2 separate regions of the Homo sapiens genome follow, and region 1 is reported to be linked to region 2. The links are microRNA targets in miRTarBase. Many come from high-throughput screens and were not tested one by one. Region 2 holds a microRNA gene; the other region holds the end of a gene's coding sequence.
Evidence for each region. The annotated mature microRNA hsa-miR-2355-5p reads AUCCCCAGAUACAAUGGACAA and lies in region 2 at 845-865, opposite strand. An mRNA with a match to its seed (bases 2 to 7 or 8) in the 3' UTR can be bound and repressed. Matches are read on the target gene's strand: a 7mer-m8 pairs with bases 2 to 8, a 7mer-A1 pairs with bases 2 to 7 and ends in A, and an 8mer does both.

Region 1 (3,000 bases), not on the chromosome of region 2:
GCAGGCGGGCCATGCTGGGGCTGGACCATGAGGAGACAGGGAAGGGGAGACATGGTGGATTTGGCATGGATGCTGGAAGCAGGGCCCACAGGACTGGCCGAGCTGTTGGGTGTGGGACAGGAGGGAGGGAGTGGCAGGGCCCCCAGCTCCTGGATTGGACAGGACGGAGCCGCTGTCGGGGGTGAGGGGAGGCACAGGTTCAGCTTGGGTGGCGGGGGGGTGGTACCCGCGGTGCCTACTCATCCCCCGCCTCCTCCCACAGCTCAGAGCTCTGCTGCAGGGCCTGCGTGAGCTTTTACCACTGGGCGATGGTGGCTGTGACGGGCGGCGTGGGCGTGGCCGCTGCCCTGTGTCTCTGTAGCCTCCTGCTGTGGCCGACCCGCCTGCGACGCTGTGAGTCCTGGCCCACCCCTCCCTCCCCAGACACTGACCCACACTCTCTAATGCCATTTCCACCCCTCCCTTGCAGGGGACCGTGATGCCCGGCCCTGACTCCTGACAGCCTCCTGCACCTGTGCAAGGGAACTGTGGGGACGCACGAGGATGCCCCCCAGGGCCTTGGGGAAAAGCCCCCACTGCCCCTCACTCTTCTCTGGACCCCCACCCTCCATCCTCACCCAGCTCCCGGGGGTGGGGTCGGGTGAGGGCAGCAGGGATGCCCGCCAGGGACTTGCAAGGACCCCCTGGGTTTTGAGGGTGTCCCATTCTCAACTCTAATCCATCCCAGCCCTCTGGAGGATTTGGGGTGCCCCTCTCGGCAGGGAACAGGAAGTAGGAATCCCAGAAGGGTCTGGGGGAACCCTAACCCTGAGCTCAGTCCAGTTCACCCCTCACCTCCAGCCTGGGGGTCTCCAGACACTGCCAGGGCCCCCTCAGGACGGCTGGAGCCTGGAGGAGACAGCCACGGGGTGGTGGGCTGGGCCTGGACCCCACCGTGGTGGGCAGCAGGGCTGCCCGGCAGGCTTGGTGGACTCTGCTGGCAGCAAATAAAGAGATGACGGCAGCCTGGCTCCTGTCTGCCTGCGGGGGGGCTCTGGGCAGGGGTAGCCTGGGCATCTCAGCCCTGCCCTGGTTGTGGGCGGCCAGCGAGCCCAGTGTCTGCCTCTGTCCCGAGCCTCTGGTCCCCTGGGACTAGGTTAGTGCCCCCTCATCTGGGTGCAGAGACAGTGGGTGCATCCTGGTAGCATGCCTTTATCGGGGAGTGGGTGTGAGGGAAGGCGGGGACCGCTGGCAGGTGGAGGGGCAGTATGGTTCCAGGACCCACTCCCGGTAGTTCTGGGTGGTGCCGGGCGGGCGCTGGGGTGCCGACAGGGAGGGCACGTAGTCTGATGCCCTCCACAGTGGCTCCACCCCGTACCGGTTCCTGTTGAGCACTGTAGGTGGGACTCGGGTCACCATGTGCCCCCACCTCCTCGCCGTTGGCCAGCAAGGGGCTCCTGGATCGCCCCGGGCAGTTTCACCCTGGCCTAGGTGGCCTTGTCCCCCTGGCCTCCCAAGGACCCACCCTGCACCTAGCCTCACCGTATTCCTTGCCCCGGATTGGCCTGTCTTTCCACAGCGCGCTCCCCCACCGGGTGCTGGGGGCCTGGTACTGGGCAGGGACGATGGGGTCATGCCAGGCGGTCTCCCGCAGGTGCTGGGTGTAGGCTGCGGTGGGGCGGGGGCTGGCGGTCATTCCTGTCCCCCTCTGGCAGGCCCGCTGCCCAGGGCGGGGGGGGGGGCACTCACCCGATGGCATGCTGCACTCACGGTGTTGGTAGCAGCTGTGCCAGCGGTTGTAGGCCTCGCGGAAGGGGCTGGCCGGGGCCCGTGGCAGGTTGTACCAGGCTTCCCAGGCGTCCGAGTTGGTCAGGCCTGTGTACCACAGCTGGCCGGCTGCGTCCCGTCCCATGGGCGTGTACTTCCAGCGTGTGGCCTGCCTGATGGCTGGTGGCCAGCGGGAACCCTCCAGGGACAGGTAGTCATCGCTGAGGGTGGGCAGGGGGCAGAGACTGAGCCCATGTCTACAGCGAGTGCTTTGACCCCTTTGCGATGTCTGCCAGGGTGGATGATGTAGAGGCCTGGCCCACGGCGTGGGGTCTCCCTCCCTCGCCACTTGGAGTCTGTCCTTCAGCCCTGTACCCCTCACCCCAGAGTGGGTGCTTGAGGAGAGAGGCTGACTCCCCCTCTCCCCACACATCGCACCCCAAGCACCCAAGTCAGCACTAAACCTTTCTGTTCTCAGCTTTTCTTGCCTGGAGAAGAGGGAGGGGAGAGGACAAGGGCCCTGGCTACTCCTGGATTCCTACAGTCCTTGTCCAGCCTCCAAGACCCACAAGTCCCTTCCTCTGGGAAGCCCCCCTGGCCTGGAGGTGCACCAGGAAGAAGTGGTCTGGGGCTGGCACTAAGCCATGGCCCAGGGAAGACTGGGGGACCCACTAGGCCAGGTGTGTGGCTCACGCTTGTAAACCCAGCACTTTGGGAGGCTGAGGCAGGTGGATCACTTGAGGTCAGGAGTTCGAGACCAGCCTGGCCAGCATGGTAAAACCCCATCTCTACTAAAAATACGAAAATTAAGCCAGGCATGGTGTGGGGGCGGGGGGCACCTGTAATCCCAGCTACTCAGGAGGCTGAGGCAGGAGAATCGCTTGAACCCAGGAAGTGGAGTTTGCAGTAAGCTGAGATCGTGCCCTTGCACTCCAGCCTGGGCAACAGAGTGAGACTCTGTCTCAAAAACAAAAAGACAAGAGACTCAAAGATGTTTTATGCTTTGACCTTGCTCTTGGGAATATGTCCCAAGGAAGTCATCCCAGAAAACAAGGTTGCTGGCCCCAAGACAGTCTAGCAGGGTTCAAAACAATCTCATCTGCCCTGCACGGAAAGCCCGGTTCCAGCTCTCATGGCAGGAACTCTGCTTAAATCCTGACTAGACTCCCAGGTGCCCACAGAACATGGGAGTAGCCTGGTCAGTTACAGAGCCTGTTTGAGGGACCCCACATAGACTCGGCTTTTCCACTAGAA
Region 2 (3,149 bases):
ACCAACTAAGATCAAGGATTCTTAAGTTCAACCAAAATAGACAGAATGTAGGAATATACAAGATAATCACTCAGTTTTCTTAGCTATTCTGAATTAGTAGTTATACTGAACAAGTAAAATAACAACAAATAGCCATTTATTTTTCTGAACCATAAACAAAACTGAATTCATTTATATTGTTTCAACTTAGGCCCCCAAAAGAAATAACTGATCTCTAAAGGAAAAACAGAGTAGGGCAGGCTCTGTGATGGTTCAGCAGTGAAATCTTTGAAAAATGATTCTTTCAGCCTCAGTTCCCTTATTTGTACAATGGGTATAATGAGAAGACTTACCTCATCGGTAAGTGAAGGTTAAATGGAAGGATGTATGTGAAACACTTGGCAACTGTAAAGATCAATACAAGTGATATTATTATTGCTTACTTGGGTAATGCACTAACATAGAAGCAGCCATTCCCAGGCTTGGTACCCAATTGCCTTCTTACTCCCAAAGCTGATCTGAGTAGGAACGCCTCAGCTTACCCTTTCTTTAGCACATCTGCTCTGGGAAGCTGACTAAGTAACCCACTGCATCTTCAGGCCATCAAGATAATATTACTAATTCCCTACTGGATCTAAAACTAAGGTCCGATAACAACTGTGATCCAAAACATGGCACTTAGCATGACCCCACAAGGCCAGCTCACTAATGGCAATCTCTTCAAGTGGCAAGGGATAAGCTAATACATGTAAAAGCCACAGATGTCACGTGCTCCCTACAGCCACATTCACATGTATGAGAGGAATAAAGTCAGCAGTATTATCTCCAAACAGCAAGGACAATGCCATACGATTATAATAGCATATTGTCCATTGTATCTGGGGATGACACGTCTGACAATGTTATTTTCTATGCACGTGAATGTAGCTGAAAGGGCCAATGCATAATTCACAGCTCCTGACAAAATGCAGACATAAAGTATGTGTCCATTAGATAAGGCAATTTAAATCCTTTTACCTGAAATAGCACCTTTCTCCCTAAGAACTCAGAAAGCTTCCAGTATGCTCCTCATGGTGCTGGTGCGAACCAGAACAGTGAATAGTAGGAAATGTACTGAGGCAGCAAATGCCAGCGCAATATACAGTTTTACCAATAAAAGTTTTATTTTCCCACGGAAAGCACGTCACTCTTATTTCTTCACTAACAGTTAATCTTCTTTTTGGTAACGAGGAAGCAACTGTTACATTTCAGCAAGGCCACTGTACCCAGGGGGAGAATGACAATACCATATGATGGTGTGGCTCTTCAGTGCGTGGTCAGCTAGGCCCATTTCCTGGCAAAGCACCTCCCTCCCACGTACCAGCCTGGCAGCTGATGTGATCAGACCTCTGCCTCAGCAAAATCTCAAATTATTACAGGTCAGGAGCCTTCTGCAAAAGGGGAGGGCATGAGGCTCAGGAAGAGTCACAATCACGAATCTTCAATCTAGAAGGTTAAGCATTTAGTGGAGGTAGGGAGATTTCTTTCTTACCATAAGGGGAAAAGCGGCACATCATCTAAATCCTGACAGAAATAATAAATAATGCAATATTTCCATTTAGTCAATATTGTTAAAGATCATAAAAGGGAAGAAGGCAAGACCTGGTGGGTAGGTCATCTTAAAAGGATTAGGAAACGTTTTGCAAGTGGATCAGAGCAACCTACAGAGAAGAAGACAGCTAAGGTTGCATTAGGCCAGGGTTTCTCAACCTTGGCACTGTTGACCCTTGGGCCCACATGATCCTTTGCTGTGGAAGTTGTCCTGGGCATTGTAGGATACTTAGCAGTATCCCTGCCCTCTACTTCCCAGATGCCAGTAGCATACCCCCAACCCCACATATGACCATGAAAAATGTCTCCAGACATTGCTAAATGTTCCCTGAGGGAAAAAATCTCCCCTGGTTGAGAACCACCACATTAGGCAACTAATGATCTCACATTTTGGGAGAGTGGCTGGACCAAAAGATTTGCTGTCACACATAATGGCCTCTTCAGACATTGACAGGATGTCCCGATACCCTCCTTGAACCATTGTGTGACTCTCCCATTCCTGCTATGCCCTTCTTAGCCTCAGAAGTTCTTAAAAGTTCAGGGAAGGCCCATCTGTGTGGAATGCTCTCCCAGTGCGCACAGGCCACATAAGGTTTTGAGCACAGGGTGTCCAGCTACAGGCTGAGAGGGGCTGAATCTGGCTCTGCTCCTCAAGCACAGGGAAGCTGCCCCACGCAAAGGGTACTTTTTCTAATTCACACAAAAGCATATTGTGGCTTAGCAGCAGCCCTGCTGGGGGACTAGCAGCCATCAGATTCGTCCTTTCCAATTCTGTCAACCGGTTTGCTTGATGTCAAAGCTAGCAGTTTTGTGTGGCCATGAGAATTAGCAAAGCAGGTTTTCAGGACTGAGGAGAACCAGGGGTTGAAGCAACTCCATGGAATACCTCCTTTCTTCATTCCCCAAAGCATGCTTGCTTGTATGCCTGCACTCTCACTATTGTTTTAAACATGGAGACATCAAAAGAAAAAAGATCTGCTCTCCAAGAAGAGTACGATGAGAGGAAGCCTCGGAAGTATGCACTGATGTTCATTTATCACTGGGTTAATAACCATGACCACCTTCAGTCTTCAAAGACCCCTGCCCTGGGTTTCCAGGGTCTTGCCAGACCACAGTGAGGCCGTATAACCACATCCAATCAACCGGTGAAGAGGGCTGGGTAAGACAAACTCCCCAGACTTCTTTGAACTTTTCAATCTGTATCCTGCTTAAGTCAAATAGGGACTATGCATAATATACTTGCAAAGTTGTTATTCTGACAGTCTGCTGTCAACAAAGATGAAATACTCAAACAAAACCACCTCCCTCTCAAAGTCAGAATATAAAACTTGTCAAGTGACAAAGGGATATTCTGACTTCTGATGGTTCTTCATAAGTAAATGGCTAATTCATTTAATGGGCAAATGCTTTTGAGTGATTAACAACTGGTCCTTTTAACAGAGATAGCAGAAATAATATTATACCCTCTCTGTAAGTTTTTCTTTGATAACAAGATTTTCTTTTGCAATTTGAGCACTACTAACGGCTAGCTGGTTTCCTTTAGACAGGTGTTAACACTGCGATCTTCTCGCGATCACCTA

Region 1: miRTarBase lists MFSD12 as a target of hsa-miR-2355-5p. Seed matches in the 3' UTR shown: 7mer-A1 at 560-566.

What each region holds. Positions count from the first base shown.
Region 1 is chr19:3,542,202-3,545,201 of GRCh38, reverse strand. It overlaps MFSD12 (major facilitator superfamily domain containing 12), which reads left to right. Exons shown (of 10, transcript NM_174983.5): 9 at 263-393; 10 at 470-1,003. The coding sequence ends at 492. TEKTIP1 (tektin bundle interacting protein 1) reads right to left here. Exons shown (of 4, transcript NM_001135580.2): 2 at 1,729-1,967; 3 at 1,522-1,647; 4 at 1,172-1,373. The coding sequence ends at 1,192. Among named protein-coding and RNA genes, the nearest start is that of TEKTIP1, 4.5 kb to the right of the region's middle. RefSeq lists a cis regulatory region at 2,217 and an enhancer at 2,145-2,289.
Region 2 is chr2:207,109,199-207,112,347 of GRCh38, forward strand. It overlaps MIR2355 (microRNA 2355), which reads right to left and starts at 875; the gene lies at 789-875. All of the region lies in intron 2 of KLF7 (KLF transcription factor 7), which reads right to left.